Regions from separate parts of the Homo sapiens genome. Here region 1 is linked to region 2. Evidence: fine-mapped expression QTL. A gene starts in region 2. The other region holds a variant in brackets. All regions are shown on one strand. Distances are between the middles of the regions.

Region 1 (8,333 bases), 280 kb before region 2:
GCCTCGGTAGTGAGGGAGAAGTAGAGCTTCTTGAAGGAGGAGGACATGAGGGGGCCCTTGCCCTTGGTCCTGTGGATGAAGAGTGGCCCCTCCTTCACAGGTGGCGCCTGCAAACTCAGCGTCCGCTGCAGGTCCAGCTCTGCCAGGCCAGGGAGGGAGGGGAATAGAGAGCCCAGTGAATGAGGGCGGGACTGGGGGGAGCGGAGCAGTGGGAGGGGCCATGGGGCTCAAGGGCTGAGCAAATCTGAACAGCAGGCAGTGGACGTAGTCATGGGGCTCAAGGGCGGAGCAAACATCAACAGCTGGTGGTGAGCGGGGTGACAGGTGGACTGAGGAAGGCAGGGCCATGGGCTTGGAGGCGGGACACGCGTCAGTAGCAGGTGGCGGCGGGGCTATGGAGCTCAAGGATGGAGCAAATGTCAACAGGCGCAGATGATGCGGGGGTGAGGCCATGGGTCTAGGGGTGGGGCAAACGTCAACGGCAGGCAGTGGGCAGGGTCACAGGAAGCACAAACAGTGGTGCGTGGGTCTATGGCCTGGGGGCCTGGCAAATGCCAACAGCAGGCGGTGGGTGGGGCCACGAGAGGAACAAACAGCGATGGGTGGGGCCGTGGGGCTCAAGGGCGGAGCAAACGTCAGCAGTAGGCTGTGGGCGGGTCTGTGCAGGGCGGCGCTCACCGTCCTTCTCCTCGATGTCCACGAGCTTGGTGATGAAGTCCTTCAGCTGCGCCACGCCCTGGCGCACGGTGGGCTGCAGCGGCTCCATCCAAGCCTCCTTGGCCCTGGAAGCCGGCGTGTCCATGTTGCCCACGTTCTGGACTGCCTGGAGGTGACAGCAGGAAGGACCAGGTTCTGCTAGGTTAGGGGCCTAGCCACTGCACCCCCTCCCACCCCCCCTCCCCAAGTCTTTGCTACTCAGCTGTAGCGATGGAGGCAGAGGCGACAGAGGCCATGCCCACGGGCCCCCTCCAGCCCCACTAGGGATCAGGGAGGAGAGGATCATGAAGTTTGATGCCTTATGATAACTGAGACCACTTGGGCCTTCCTCTGTAGGTTTAACTGACGCTGCTGCACTGGATACCCCACCCCGGTGCCGGGCACATAGGTGCAGCCTGAGAGTAAGCAGACCCGGGTTGGAAGGTCCCGCGATTCACCACCGACAGGATGGGCGGCCTTGGCAACCCCCGACCCCTCGCAGGCCTGTTCCCTTATCCATGAGATGGAGCTCGGACAAGGTGGCCACAGGAAGGCTTTGCAAACTGTGAAGTGCAGTGCCTACGTGGGCGTGCCAGTGGCCTCGCCGGAGCCGGTAGGGAACACTCTGCAGTCCAGGCCAGGGCCCCGGTAGGACACCCAGCTGTGCATCCCGCCCGTGGCCGCAAGGCCCGCACCTTAGCCAACAGGAGCAGGGTGCGGCTGGTGCGGGCGTCCGCGTGGCGCTCCCGCAGGTGGAAGAGCTTGGGCGACATGATGGCGGGGGAGAAGAAGCGCAGGCACAGGAAGCTGGTGACGGCGATGAACGGTACATTCTGGAGGGGTGCGGAAGAGCGCGGGCTGGAGTCCCCCAGACCAGGGCTCCTGGCAGCCCCCTCCCCTTAGGCTCTGTCCCTGACCCTCGCTGCGACACAGCCTCCCTGGTCCTCCCCAGCGCTCCCTGGTTCCCCACCGCTCTTCACTCCTCGCCCCAGCCCAGTCCAACCCGGCCCAGCCTAGCCCAGCGGGTGGAGGGCGCACCTCGTGCTGGGCGCCGGGGAAGCGCTCGCGCACGCGCCGGAAGAGCTGGCGGAAGGTGGCGCGCACCACGGCGGGGCACGCGCGAACCGAGCGGCTGAGCGCGCTCAGCAGGGCCCCCAGGTGGGCGCGCAGCGTCTGCGCGCTCTGCTCCAGCACCTCGGCCTCGGTCTGCGGGCGGTGCAGCCTGGAGCACCTGCGTGGAACGGGGCGGGTTGGCAGAGGAGGTCGCGGTCAGCGCCAGGGCCACGACAGGAACAGTGGCTCTCACAGCAGCCAGGACACGGACACAGGGGACAATACACGGGTGGGCAGAAGCACAAACACACATGCTGACAGGGCCTGATCCCAACCCGCTGCCGCTGCACCCCGCAACCCCCGGAGTTACCCCCGGCCTCACCCTACATCCTTAACTTCCACTTTGCTGGGGTCCAGCTCCACGTACTTCTTCTCCTCAAACACCTTGTTGATGATGGGGCCCAGGACGCCGTGCAGGTACTGCATCCCGGCCACCTGGGGACCACCGCAGGTCACATTGATCCTGTCTCCCCCAGTCCCACTCCAGCTGCCCACCTTCTCCCGGCAGCCGCCCTTGCACCGTTTGCCTGCCGTATCCGCCCAGGAGGGGGCCAGGTACACATGCAGGGCAAACTGTTTATTCATGAATGAATGAATGAGTGAGTGAATGAATGACTAGAATTCTTAGCCCTTGTAATCCTAGCACTTTGGGAGGCCAAGGCAGGAGGATCACTTGAGGCCAGGAGTTTGAGACCAGCCTGGGCAACATAGTGAGACTGTCTCTAACTTAAATTTTAATCACACACACATTCTCTTTGGGGGGGGGTGCGGGGCACGGAGTCTAGCACGGGGCCCAGGCTAGAGTGCAGTGGCGTGAGCTCACTACAACCTCTGGCTCCTGGTTCAAGTGAGTCTCCTGCCTCAGCCTCCCCAGTAGCTGGGATTACAGGTGCCCACCACCATGCCAGGCTAATTTTTGTATTTTTAGTAGAGATGGGGTTTCGCCATGTTGGCCAGGCTGGTCTCGAACTCCTGACCTTAAGTGATCCGCCCGCCTCAGCCTCCCAAAGTGCTGCAATTACAGGCATGAGCCACTATGCCCAGCCACATTCTTAACCTTAAAGGGCTCTGAATATGGAGATAGAACACTGGAGTCGAAGTCCCAGCCCCCTCTGTCGCTCTCTCTGAAGCTCAGTGACTACTCCAGTATTAAATGATGCATGTATAAAGTTAGTCACTCTATCATTATCTGTAATAGCAGATGATTGGAAATGACCTAAATGTCTCATAATAAGGAACTAGTTTTAAAAAGCATGTTCCATTCATGCCTTGAAATACTATACATTGAAAAAATAAAAATTGTATAAATATGTGAAAAAAACAGTGTGTATATTATACTACGACTTACTTCTTTGTGCATAGATGTTCTACAAGGCTATATAAAAGATTGTTAATTATGGTTGTCTCTTGGGAGGGGGAGTTTAGATTGTATAATGGGGTAGAAGGCTGACTTTTCGTTGTTTACTATTCTGCACCTTCTGGATTTTGTACTATGTATATATTTTATATATTAAAATAGCTTTATATAAATAAAACTAGCCCCATGGCTGAATAAATTTTATTACAATTTTCTTATGATTCCCTGATACTCTGTTCCTTAACTTCCTAGTCTGGCTTGCATCTCACTGCTTGACCATTGAGAACCTGATCTTGCTTGCCTAATGAAAACTTTAGTAATTGTCTTGTCTTAGCTAACTTTACTGGGTTGACTCCTGCTAACTCATTTTACTGATTTACCTGTAAGTCTGGTTACCAGATGGACAAATTCCCAATCCTACTCCCTTCTGTTTATTTGCCAAGGAATCTACCCAACAGACAACAGTACCCTCTCTCTACCTATATATTAATACATTTTTTGTTGAAAAAGGTATTTTATTTTAATCCTTAAGCTTCCATCTTTAGTCCCCAATGTATTAAAATAGTGATTGCATTACTAAAGAGACTGTTTTACAAGATGCACATTCACCTAAGAGCCACGAGCTTTCCAAAGCCAACCTTCTCTCAAAGGAGAAAATACTATTATTTCTCCTAGTACTTATTTTGAAGAGCAACATCCGTTCAGCGACTATTTAGAAAGCCAGTATCAAAGTTTAGATTATTATTTTTAATATTTAATCAAGTTGCTACAACAGTAGTTAACAATCAATGAAAAATAAAGAGGTGATTAAAATGTATTAACTATGTAATTAAACACATGCACATACACATACAAACTAGGATCTCATTATGTCAGTAAAGAACTAGAAAAGGATAAAGGAGAAGAGAGGCAAATAAACCACACAAACAGAGGGACAGATGGGCCACTGAGGGTAGGGCCACTGCTGCGTTTTCCTCCCATTCCTAGCCTTGGGTTTGGCATATTGTAGATGCTCAGGAAAGATTTTTCAGAATGAGTTAAGGAAGATAATCTCACAGATTGTATGTGAGGAGGTAAAGGACCAATTTTTCTTTATCTTTCTTCTTCTCTGTCCCCTTTTCAACATCCTTCTGACTCCCTCTTACCACTAAGCACAGCTTGTTCAAATAGAGTTGTTCTGACAATACCCCAGATTCCTGGCCAAAATCAATCTCCATGTTTGTCATTTTAAAGATGCCAAGAGGAGGACATCCTAACACAGTGCCTTCTTTCCTCTTACCCTGACCTCTTCTGCAGTGTACCATTTAACTGAATTGAGGGGTATTAATCTACTTTGCAAAGTGGAATATGGCCTGTATTCTTATAATCTTAGCATCAATATTCAATCTTTGTAAATGGATTTAGTTATGTTGATATCTCAAATATTTAAGTGCATTACAAGGTCTTCTTCCATACTGGAAAAGTTTTTAAATTTCCACCCCACTGTCAGAGTAAAAACAATAATAACAAAAATATGGGAACAATAGAACCTATCTGTACTGTTCAATAAACTATCCGTCTCTTTGAAGATTCTTGACAGCCAAGGAAAATCTTGAAAAATTATTATTCTTGCAAGGGTGCCTAGATGTCTGAAGGAAAAGCGAAAACATGTCAATAATAGCAAGATTTGCAGGAAGGTTTATAAAAGAAAATTGGTCATTTTTTAAAGCACAGCCTATAAGTACAGCTGTTAGTGAGGGGTGATAACTAAGGAGAGGATGGGGAAACATACTAGAAATATTTAAACAGAGTGTACATAGTTATCTTTGTTTTAATACACAGTCTACTTTAAAAGTCAAATTGTAAAACCTAAAATAGCAGTGTTTAAATGTGTGAATGTCAAGTGAAATGC[G/A]CGCTGAAGCAGGAAACGGAAGATTGGGTTCCAAATTCCACCCCGATGTGTAACCCAGGGCGAGTCTCAATCTTCCAGAATCTTTAAGATGGAAATAGCAATATCTCAAACCTCCTATTACAGAATCATTCTGAAAAGTAAGTTTACATACTTGAAACTACTTCGTAAGCTCCTTGAGGGTGGGGTTCTTATCTTTTCCCCTTTATAACCAGTTACTTAAGGTATAAAAAAATAGAAAATATTTAATTCCTCGAAAAAAATTGAAATGTCATTAGGGATTATCTCAAGAAGCTCATTAGTAACTCTATAGAAGGTCCAACCTACAAAATAAATGAAGCTTTAGTAGCGTCAGCAAATCACCGATACTTTCAGTAATTAAAACTTTAGTTTAATTTTAGGCCAGGTGCAGGGGTTTACACCTGTAATCCCAGCATTTTGAGAGGCCGAGGTGGGTAGATCACTTGAGCCCGGGAGTTTGAGACCAGCCTGGACAACATGGTGAAACTCTATCTCTACATAAAATACAAAAATCAGCCAGGCCTGGTGTTATGTGTCTGTGGTCCCAGCTACTCCAGGGGCTGAGGTGGGAGGATTGCTTGAGCCCAGAAGGTAGAAGTTGCAGTGAGCTGAGATTGTGTCACTGCACTTCAGTCTGGGCAACAGAGACAGACTTTACATCAAAGAAATTTATTTAAAAAACCAACATTTATTTATCTGGTACCAGCCTTAAGAGAACAAAATATATAGAAAATAAAGCATCTTTTGAATATGTGAATATCCTCATAAAAAAAGATAATTTTACAAGTATGAAATTAGGTAAACAATGGCAGCATCTTTTTTTAAATACACAGTGGTAGACCGTGTTGTTAAATATACATAGGTATCAAGTTGCAATTCTTTCAGAAAGCATTCTGATTACTATATCAACAACCTACCGTGTCTACTACACCTCTGGCCAGAGACTTCCCCCATAGGCTCAGATCCACATACTGGACATTCCCTTCAGACCTGTTGCTTCTTCTGAACTCTCATGTATGGTGCCATAATTTGGCTGATTTCCTAAATCAGAATGCCAAGCATCAATTTAGAATCTTTTCCTCACCCACTCCATCCACTCAGACACTAAGTCTATAGAATTTTATACTTCCTTAACATCTCTCCTAAATGTATTCACTCCTTTTTTCCTCATTGCCAATGCCACTGTGCAGTCTCTCTTCACATCTTCATCACTGAAACGGCATTCTAACTGGTGAGATGGTAGGAATGGAAAACACAAATTCAAGAGATATTAACAAGAGAGAACCAACTGACAGAACCCAGGAGCAGAGTTCGGTTCCGGAGAAGGATAATGGATTTAGTTGTGAGTATGTTTAGTTTGAGGTACTTTGGGGTCATCTACATGAAGATATTCCAAGTATGTGCATACATGGGTATGGGCAAAGAAACCAGATTCATAGTGGACCCTGTGTATATGGATGCAATATCCCCTTTCATGTCTTACTGCCTTAAAAGCCTTTCTAGACCGTCTCATCCCACAGCAGTCAAGCCTCCCTTTCCCTTCTGATAACACTGCTTGTATCCTCTGGGTCCAAAATCATATGCCTTTTGTTGACATTTAATATTTCAATCTTCTTGTTCACAAATAATGCTTCTAAAGAATAGGAACCTTTTTATGCTTTATGTCCATAAATTCTCATGGTATCTAGCATAATCCAGCACACAGGAGGTGCTCAAAACCAAGGAGGAGTTGAAGGGATGAATTTCAGTAGCTTTAGTAATAATAATTATAAACATCTAGCACAGTGCCTGGCACATAGTGAATGCTGTATCTTTTATCTTTTAAATAGATTAAGACTTAATGTCCAAAATTATTGTTCACAAGGTTCTTGACATCTTAATACTCACCAAATCTGACATGCAACTGAAACTTGGACACAAATGCTGCTATTACATATTTTGTAAGAAGTACAACCACTCATAGTTTTATATATAACCTGTTTTCGTGAAAAGGTCATATATTAACAAACTTAATCCATCTTCATCATTGCCCATGATGATTGGTACACATCCACACTCTACTTTTAGTTTCATATTCTATTTTGATTCGTAGTTTTACTTCCTCGGTGTTTCCCTACAATGTTTGTTCTCCCTTTTATGCCTCCCAAATGCAATGCTCCTATGCCTCCTTTTTTCCACCCCTTGGCTAAGTCAGGTCAAAGACTTACTTAACAATGATTGGAACAATAATTATTTTCAGGAAATAAAGAGAAGGGAGGAGATGCCTGGCTCTTGGTAAAAAGCAAAGAGCCAATTATTTCGCTTAGGCGAAATAATTTAATGTTTTGATTTTGGCTCACAGCATTAAGACAAAAATGATTTTACGGCCTCCAAGTCGTGGAAAAGTTCAGCATCTGACACACTGACCCTTGACAAGTGAGGCCACATTTATAAATCAGTGCTGTTTTACATAAGCACATACAGATAGAAGTAGAAATCCTAACTAGGGAATACCGTGAAAGCTATCACTTGTATTAACCCTGGACATGTGACAGCATCTAACATAATACCCATTGGAGTGTATGCTGGTTCAACCTCTTTGGAAAACTGATTGAAGGTCTTTACTAAAGCTGAATATAAACCTAGACTATGACAGATTAACCCCACTCCTGTGTATATACCCAAGATAAGTTCATTCTTAAGTACAAGGCATGCATAAGAATGATCACAGAACTTTATTCATTATCTTCAAAACAGGAAATAATCCATTTTTATAAACAAAATAGAATGGATCAACAAATTATGGTATATTTACACAGTAGTGAGGTAGGAGGCAGAACTCGACTTTGGAGGTGGGGCTTGGACATCACACCAAATTGAGGACTAGCTAAAAGAGGTCTGAGGCAGAAGCACCTCCCCCATTAGACACCAGTGTGCCATGTTAGTTTACTGTTGCCATGGTAACATCAGGAAGTTACTGCCCCTTTCCATGGCATCAACCCGACAACCTGCAAGTTACCAACCTCATTCTAGAAATTTCTGCATAAACCAGTCCTTAATTTGCATCTAATTAAAAGTGGATATAAATTTGAGTGCAGAACTGCCTCTGAGCTCCTATTCCAGGTACACTGCCTATGGGGTATCCCTGCTCCACAAGGATCAGAACCTCTGCTGCTGCAGTTCACTGCCACTTCAATAAAAGTTGCTGTTTAACATCACAACCCTCTCAAGGGCAAGCCTCAATTTGGGGGCTTGACTGTCCTGTATCATCAGGATACT
Region 2 (8,333 bases):
AGGTGGAGGTTGCAGTGAGCTGAGATTGGACCACTGCACTCCAGCCTGGGCAATAGAGCAAGACTCTGTCCAAAAAGGGGAAGGGAAAGGAAAGGGAGGAGAGGGGAGGGGAGGGGAGGGGAGGGGAGGGAAAAGAAAAGAAAAGAAAAGGAAAGAAAAGAAAAAAGAAAAGAAAAGAAAAGAAATCAACCATACTGGCAAAAGAAAAACTAAGGTATCTAGCCTGGTATCAAAAAGATCTCTCGCCAGGCACAGTGGCTCACACCTATAATTCCAGCACTTTAGGAGGCTGAGGTGGGAGGCTTGCTTGAGCCCAGGAGTTCAAGACTAGCCTGGGCAACATAGTGAAACCCCATTTCAACTAAAAATTTAAAAATTAGTCATATATGGTGGTGCACACCTATAGTCCTAGCTACTCTAGAGGCTGAGACGGGAGAATTGTTTGAGCCTGGGAGGCTGCGGCTGCAGTAAGCCATGGTCATGCGACTGCACTCCAGCCTGGGCAACAGAGCAAGACTCTGTCTCAAAAAATAAAATAAAATAAAATCTCTCAAAGAATTTGTAACCATATTGACCATTTTTGGTTTGGGTTAAACAGAAATAATAATAAATTCATTTTTTTTAAAAAAATGAATGAAAAGAAAAAAAGAGTTTGTAACCAAAGGCCAGCGATTATGTGTGTTGGGATTTAAATTTCATCATGCCTGGGATCCAATTTGAATTTGTTACCTTTGTAAATGGATTTGATATATTAATGTGCAAAGAGGTTCCACTGGTAATAACTCTGGGACATTTGGCAGAAATAAATATCATTCTCTCTAAAGAGACAGACACAGTCAAGCCAGGCCTTACAGGATACCCATGGATTAAGCCCTCCAAAAACAAGCTCCCAATCAAAAACTGCAAAACACACGAGGAAAAGGAAGTCCAACAAGATTCAAAAGAAACCTTTAAAGTGATGAAGACATAAAAAGAAAAATAAAACTCTTGAGACAAATGTTGTCAAAACAGGACTGGGAAGATCTGTAAAAGAACCAAATAAAATCATGAAAATTAAAAATATAGTTATTGAAATTTAAAACTCAGTGGGTGAGTTAAATAGCAGATGCGACTCAGCTAAGAAGAGAATCAACAAATGAATATGTACCTGAAGAAATTACACAGGATAAAATGTAGAGAAATAAAGAGATGAAAAATATAAAGGATGCTAAGAGACACATTACATAACATGAAAAGGTCCAACACACATCTTTACAGAATTTCCAGGAGGGAATAAAGAGAATAAAATCAAAGCAAAATTTAAAAATACCACAGACTAAAATGTTTTAGAACTGATGAAAGGCAACACTTTTCAGATTCAAAAAGCACAGGAAGTTCCAAGCAGGAAAATGAAAATATATCAATGGCATTATAAGTGAAACTGCAAAAGGCCAAAGCACAGGAAAATTTTTCAGGCAATTTGACACAGATTACGTACAAAAGACTGTCACGTAGACAGAACAACATAAGGTGGAAGTCAGCAGAAACTATCAATCTGAGATACCATATGCAAGTAAATTACAACTCAAAAATGAGTATTAAGACATTTTTGGCTGAGTGCAGTGGCTCACACCTGTAATCCCAGCACTTTGGGAGGCTGAGGCAGGCAGATCACCTAAGGTTGGGCGTTCGAGACCAGCCTGACCAAGATGAAGAAACCCCCTCTCTACTAAAAACACAAAATTAGCCAGGCGTGGTGGCACATGCCTGTAATCCCAGCTACTTGGGAGGCTGAGGCAGGAGAATCGCTTGAACCCGGGCGGAGGTGGCGGTGAGCCAAGATTGTGCCATTGCACTCCAGCCTAGGCAATAAGAGCGAAACTCCGTCTCAAAAAAAAAAAAAAAAAGACATTTTTTGCCAGGCATGGTAGTACACCTGTAGTCCCAGCTACTTGAGAGGCTGAGGCAAGATTACCTGAGCCCAAGAATTGAAGGCCAGCCTGGGTAACATAGCAAGACTCTGTCTCTAAAAAATTTAAGGCCAGGCACAGTGGCTCATGCCCGTAATCCCAGCACTTTGGAAAGCCAAGGTGGGCGGATCACCTGAGGTCAGAAGTTCGAGACCAGCCTGGCCAACATGGCAAAACCCCATCTCTACTAAAAATACAAAAATTAGCTGGGTGTGGTGGCATGCACCTGTAATCCCAGCTACTTGGGAGGCTAAGGCAGGAAAATCGCTTGAACCAGGGAGGCAGAGGTTGCAGTGAGCCAAGATTGTGCCACTGCATTCCAGCCTGGGAGACAGAGTGAGAGTCCATCTCAAAAAAAAAAAAAAAAATTTAAAGACACTTTGAGACATAGACTGAGAGTTTGCTTCCAATGGACCCTTCACAAAGGAACTTCTAAAGAACACTGAAATCAGAAGAAAGGCATGAAATGCAAATAATAACAATGGGCAAAAAATCTAATAAGTATATGGGTAAAGCCATTAACTTTATAAAACAGTATCATGATGAAAACGTGGGGGTAGAACAATAAGATGGAACAAAAACACTAGATAATAATAACACTCTAACACCAGAGAGAGTAATCAAGAGTTAGTGTTCTAAATTTCAATTATTCTTCAAGAAGAAAGTATAAATATTAATTTACTTTAGGCCTTATTAATAAATGTACACATTAAAAATATTTGAGTAACCAGTAAAATAGTAGAAATAGAATGGTTATCTTCTACAACATGTTAAAAATATTTAAGAGTAACCAGTAAAATCATAGAAATAGAATGTATATCATCTAAAACATGAAAGTAGAAAAAAGGGGGTAGATTTAAATACTCAATAAATAGTACACTACTTGGTAATGGGTGCGCTAAAATCTGACTTCACCACTATACCATTCATCAATGTAACCAAAAACCACATCTATCCCAGAAGCTATTGAAATTACTTTAAACGTTTTTATTTTTTAAAAATTCAATAAAGTCAGGAAAGGGGAAAAATAAAACATATAAAAAGATAATAAATAATAAATAAAAAGATAATAAATAGTATAAAATGAAATTAGAAAAATGAACCCAAGTATATCAATAATCATAATAAATTTAACAAAATGTATTGGTTAGAAGACAAAAATTTTTTATTCCTAAAAATGCTTTTTGCTTTAATGTTTTTCCCCCAATATTAATGTAGCTATCTATTTTCTTTTCTTAGTTTTATTTTTAATTGACAAATAATAATTAAAATGCATTTATGGTTAAAATGTGATGTTTTGATTTATGTTTATAATGTGGAATGATTAAATCAGGTTAATAATTAAGAAATCACCACCTCACATAATTATCATTTTTGTGTGTGAAGAAAACATTTAAAATCTACACTTTCAGGCACGGAAAGACAAATTCTCCATGATTTCACTTCTATGTGAAATTTTAAAATGTTGGACTTACGGAAGTAACGAGTAAAATGATGGTTATCAGCCTTCCTTTCATTTGTGTTCATTTTGTTTTTGAAAGATTCTCCCCAACGCCCGAAAGCTTGAAGGAATGAGTAACTCCTCTCTTCTCAGGCCCAGTCCCAAGGCACAAGGCCACTTGTACCAGCAGCGTGAGTCAGCAAGATAGCAGAAGCAGGAAGAGAGCCGGCCAGAAGACACCTACCCTGGCCGGAAGACACGTACCCCTGAAGATCGAGAAACAGGCCATCTGGGTACCACATAGCAGTTACATCAGACTGGGACAATTCCTGTTTACGGAAGACTATAAAACCCTGCCCCCTACTCATTTGGTGCTGACGCCATTTTAGGCCTTAGCCTGCCTGCACCCAGGCGCTCATTAAAACAGCAGGTTGCTCCACACTGCCTCGTGTTGTCTGTTGGCACACTCTCAAGAGTTTGAACGGATACAAGAATCTTTCATCTGGTGCCGAAACCCGGGAGGGGCTCCGGTCTTCGTCCCCCGTGGACCTACCCCTCCGCCCCAGAAAGCAGGCCACAGCAGCCGGACAAAGGAAGCTCCTCAGCCTCCAGTTGCTTCTCTGTGCATGCACATCAGTCACTGATCTCACCTACTGGTAAGTTTCCCGGGAGCCCGGTTAACAAGGAAAAATCCATACAGCCTCTCTTGGTTTCTCCAGTCTGAAAATCCAACATTGGTCCAAGAAGGCTCCGACGTGTGCCAGGTACTTGCTGATCATCTGGTCTTAGGGGGACGCCTCTAAGCCATTTGATCCCGTTCCGGGAACGAAAAAGGCAGCGGTGACGATCGCTCCTTTCATCGTCTCCCTCCACCATCCAGGATGGTCTCCTTTTTCCCTGTTTTCCCGAGCCTACCCTCAGTTATGGGAAACTCCCCATCCTCAATTCCAAAAAACAGCCCTCTAGGCTGCCTCATAAAAAACCTGTAAACCTGGCCAGGTGCGGTGGCTCATGCCTGTAATCCTAGCACTTTGCGAGGGTGAGGTGGGCGGATCACCAGGTCAGGAGGTCAAGACTATCCTGGCTAACACGGTGAAACCCTGGCTCTACTAAAAATACAAAAAATTAGCCGGGCATGGTGGCAGGCACCTGTAGTCCCAGCTACTCAGGAGGCTGAAGCAGGAGAATGGTGTGAACCCGGGAGGCAGAGCTTGCAGTGAGCCAAGATCACACCACTGCACTCCAGCCTGGGCGACAGAGTGAGAGTCCGTAAAACAAACAAACAAACAAAAACCTGCAAACCTTAGGCCTCAGGCAAGATATCCATCCTCCTTGTCTTTTTTTGCAATTCAGACTGGCCACAATACGAATTGAATAATGGGTCCTAATGGCCCGCAAATAGAACATTCGACTTTACAATTTTAACTGATTTAAGCAATTATTGCTGACGACTGGAGAAATGGGGAAAAACTCCTTATGTCCAGCCCTGTTTGCACTCAGATCACAACCCGACCTCTGTAATTCTTGCTCACCTGTTCAAATCCTCCTCTATTCTCGCCACCCAGATCACCTTTCTCCTCCCAACTCGACATATTTTCCTCGTTAGATCCAGCAGACTGCTGTCCATTCCTCTCAGCCCCTGCCTCTCCCTCTCAGCCGTCTTCTTTAACCCCCTAAGCCTCCTCTTTATCTTCTCAGCTGCGATCTTCTCAGCCTTCATCTTCCCAGTCGCCATCTTCCCAGCCCCCATCTTCCCAAGCAGCAGTATCCACTTCTTTTCCTACACTGTCCTCTCCTCAGGACAATTCTAGCATTGTCTGTACTCATTACTCATTCTCCTTCCTCACTGCCCTCTCCTGAAGCCTGTAAACCCATCCCACCACCTTACGCCCCTATCTATCCTCCACTGCCTATCAACTTAACCCTCCTTCCCCCTTCAAACCCTCAGCAGGAACCACTTTCAGGTTCTTCCTTCTCTCCCACCCATACTCGCTCAGGCACCATCTTTGGCCCATGCCCCACCCTTAGTTCAGCCCCTGTGCTAGAGAGCCCCCTTCAGAAAGTAGCAGGAACTGGAGGCATTGTTAAAGTTTATGTTCCCCTCTCCCTCAGTGATCTCTCTCAAATTAACAAAAGACTCAGTTCATTTCCAGAAGACCCTACCTCTTACATTAGAGAGTTTCAGTACCTCACCCAGTCTTATGAACTAACTTGGCATGACCTCTACATTATCCTCTCTTCCACCCTCACCCCAGAAGACTGGGGCTGTATCTGGACCCTAACTCAGGTACATGCTGATACAATTCATCACCAAGCTCCTGCTCAGCCTACTGGTGCAAAGGCAGTCCCCAACCAGGACCCCCACTGGGATTATCAAGATGGGGCCTCTGGACGCTGCTGTCGAGACCACATGATTGTGTGCCTCCTTGCAGGACTCAAAAAGGCTGCCCATAAAGTGGTAAACTATGAAAAACTTTCAGAAATCACCCAAGGTCCTAACGAAAACCCAGCCCTTTTTATCTCTCGTTTAACTGAAGCCATGAGAAAATATACCAACCTAGACCTAGCCAGTCCAGAAGGAACCGATATTTTAAACCTTCAGTTCATCTCCCAATCCACCCCCAATATTCAGCGCCAGCTTCAAAAACTTGACAACAGCCCTCAAACCCCACAACGAGACTTTCTTAATTTAGCCTTCAAAGTCTTTAACAATCGTGATGAGGAAAGTAAAAGGCAAAAACAGGCAGGGTTTCAAATGCTTGCCTCCTCCATCAGGGGCCCTGCAGGCCATGGGGCCACAGCTCCACACAGAAGCCTCCTAGCAATCCACCTCCACCTGGTGCCTGCTTCAAGTGCGGCAATGAAGGCCACTGGCCCACACAATGCCCAAACCCAGGTAAACCCACGAGGCCATGCCCCCTCTGCGGAGGACCCCACTGGAAGTTGGACTGTGAGCGGCCCCTGCAAGGACCACCCCCATCCCTTCCTGAGCCAATCAAACCCTCCTACTCGGATCTCGTCAGCCTTGCCGCTGAAGACTGATAGTGCCTTGGAACAGACACCCCAGCAACTACCATCGCTTCATCTGAGCCAAGGGTAACCCTGATGGTGGCAGGTAGGCCAGTATGTTTTTAAAATTAATACCAGGGCAACCTATTCTGCTTTCCCTAATTTTTCAGGACCCACCCAGTCCTCCCAAGTCTCTATTGTGGAAATTGATGAACAAGCCTCCAAACCCTGAGCCCCCCGCTCCACTTTTCTGCTCCCTGCACACCTTTTCCTTCACTCACTCTTTCTTAGTCCTGCCCTCATGCCCAACTCCGCTCCAAGGCATCCTTTCAAAACTCCACACTGCTCTCCACTTCCACGTTCCCCATAATACCCAACGCATCAACCCAAACCCCTCTGGGGCTTCTTTCTTCTATTCCAACCTCCCACCTTAAAACATGCAACCTTTCCTTATCCCCCATCTGTAGTTAGCCCCCCTGTTTGGGGTAATTCCACACCCTCAGTCGCAAAACACCACACTCCCGTCCGTCCACATTACCCTTAAAGAGCCCACCCAGTTCCTATCACAGAAGCAGTATCCCATCCCCCAAGCAGCTCTCACAGGCCTAACGCCTATCATTTCTCACCTCCTCGCCAGTCACCTACTCCGCCCAACATACTCCCCTTTTAACACACCAATTCTACCTGTTAAAAAACCAGATGGAACTTATCGCTTAGTCCAGGACCTCAGGCTTATTAACCAAGCTGTACTCCCAGTATGTCCAGTAGCTCCTAACCCATATACTTTACTTTCTGCAGTTCCCTCCAATACCACCCATTTTTCTGTTCTAGACCTAAAGGATGCTTTTTTCACAATTCCATTACACCCTGATTCCCAAAACCTCTTTGCCTTTACATGGGAAAACCCCAACACCCATGGAGTCCCTGTGTATGATCACTTAAACAGAGAAAAACGATCCTTAAAGGTAGGAGGAAGCCAAAGACGGCAAGAGGACGAGTGGCCCCTGCAATGGATCATCGAATATTATGGTCCTGCCACTTGGGCGGAGGATGGTTCATGGGGTTATCGCACTCCCATATATATGCTAAATAGAATAATTAAGGCTACAGGCTGTTCTAGAGATAATCACTAACCAAACCGCCTCCGTCCTGGAAATGCTCGCACAACGACAAAAACAAATGTGCGTGGCAATTTATCAAAACAGGCTAGCACTAGACTACTTATTAGCAGAAGAGGGTGGAGTCTGTGGTAACTTTAATGTCTCCAATTGTTGTCTTAACATAGACAATAATGGAAAAGCAGTTCTAGAAATCGCTTCAAACATCAGAAAAGTAGCCCATGTACCAGTCCAAACCTGGAAAGGATGGGACCTGGCAAACCTTCTAGGAGGATGTTTCTCTAATTTAGAAGGATTTAAAATGCTGATAAGGACAGTAATCTTCATCATTGGGCTCCTCCTTTTTCTCCCGTGTTATCCCACTGATAATAAAAGCCATTAAAACTCTTGTTGAAGCTACAGTTAACTATGTTTATTGTGGCACTATTCACAATAGCAAAGACTTGGAACCAACCCAAATGTCCAACAATGATAGACTGGATTAAGAAAATGTGGCACATATGCACCATGGAATACTATGCAGCCATAAAAAATGATGAGTTCATGTCCTTTGTAGGGACATGGATGAAGCTGGAAACCATCATTCTCAGCAAACTATCGCAAGGACAAAAACCAAACACTGCATATTCTCACTCATAGGTGGGAATTGAACAATGAGAACACATGGACACAGGAAGGGGAACATCACACACCGGGGCCTGTTGTGGGGTGGGGGGAGAGGGGACGGATAGCATTAGGAGATATACCTAATGTTAAATGACGAATTAATGGGTGCGGCACACCAACATGGCACATGTGGCACATGTATACATATGT

The links. PIP is the estimated chance that this variant, and not a neighbour inherited with it, causes the effect.
Region 1: its variant is fine-mapped to the expression of NFE4 in whole blood (TOPMed, PIP above 0.99).

What each region holds. Positions count from the first base shown.
Region 1 is chr7:102,688,226-102,696,558 of GRCh38, forward strand. It overlaps LOC124901713 (a long non-coding RNA gene), which reads left to right and starts at 762. Exons shown (of 2, transcript XR_007060461.1): 1 at 762-859; 2 at 1,054-3,384. It also overlaps the pseudogene RASA4DP. The variant G/A (reference allele first, on the strand shown) is at 5,058.
Region 2 is chr7:102,969,726-102,978,058 of GRCh38, forward strand. NFE4 (nuclear factor, erythroid 4) reads left to right here and starts at 3,705. Exons shown (of 3, transcript NR_166512.1): 1 at 3,705-4,046. The region is part of intron 7 of FBXL13 (F-box and leucine rich repeat protein 13); the gene reads right to left. RefSeq lists enhancers at 3,226-4,425, 3,883-4,396 and silencers at 4,076-4,246, 6,817-6,978.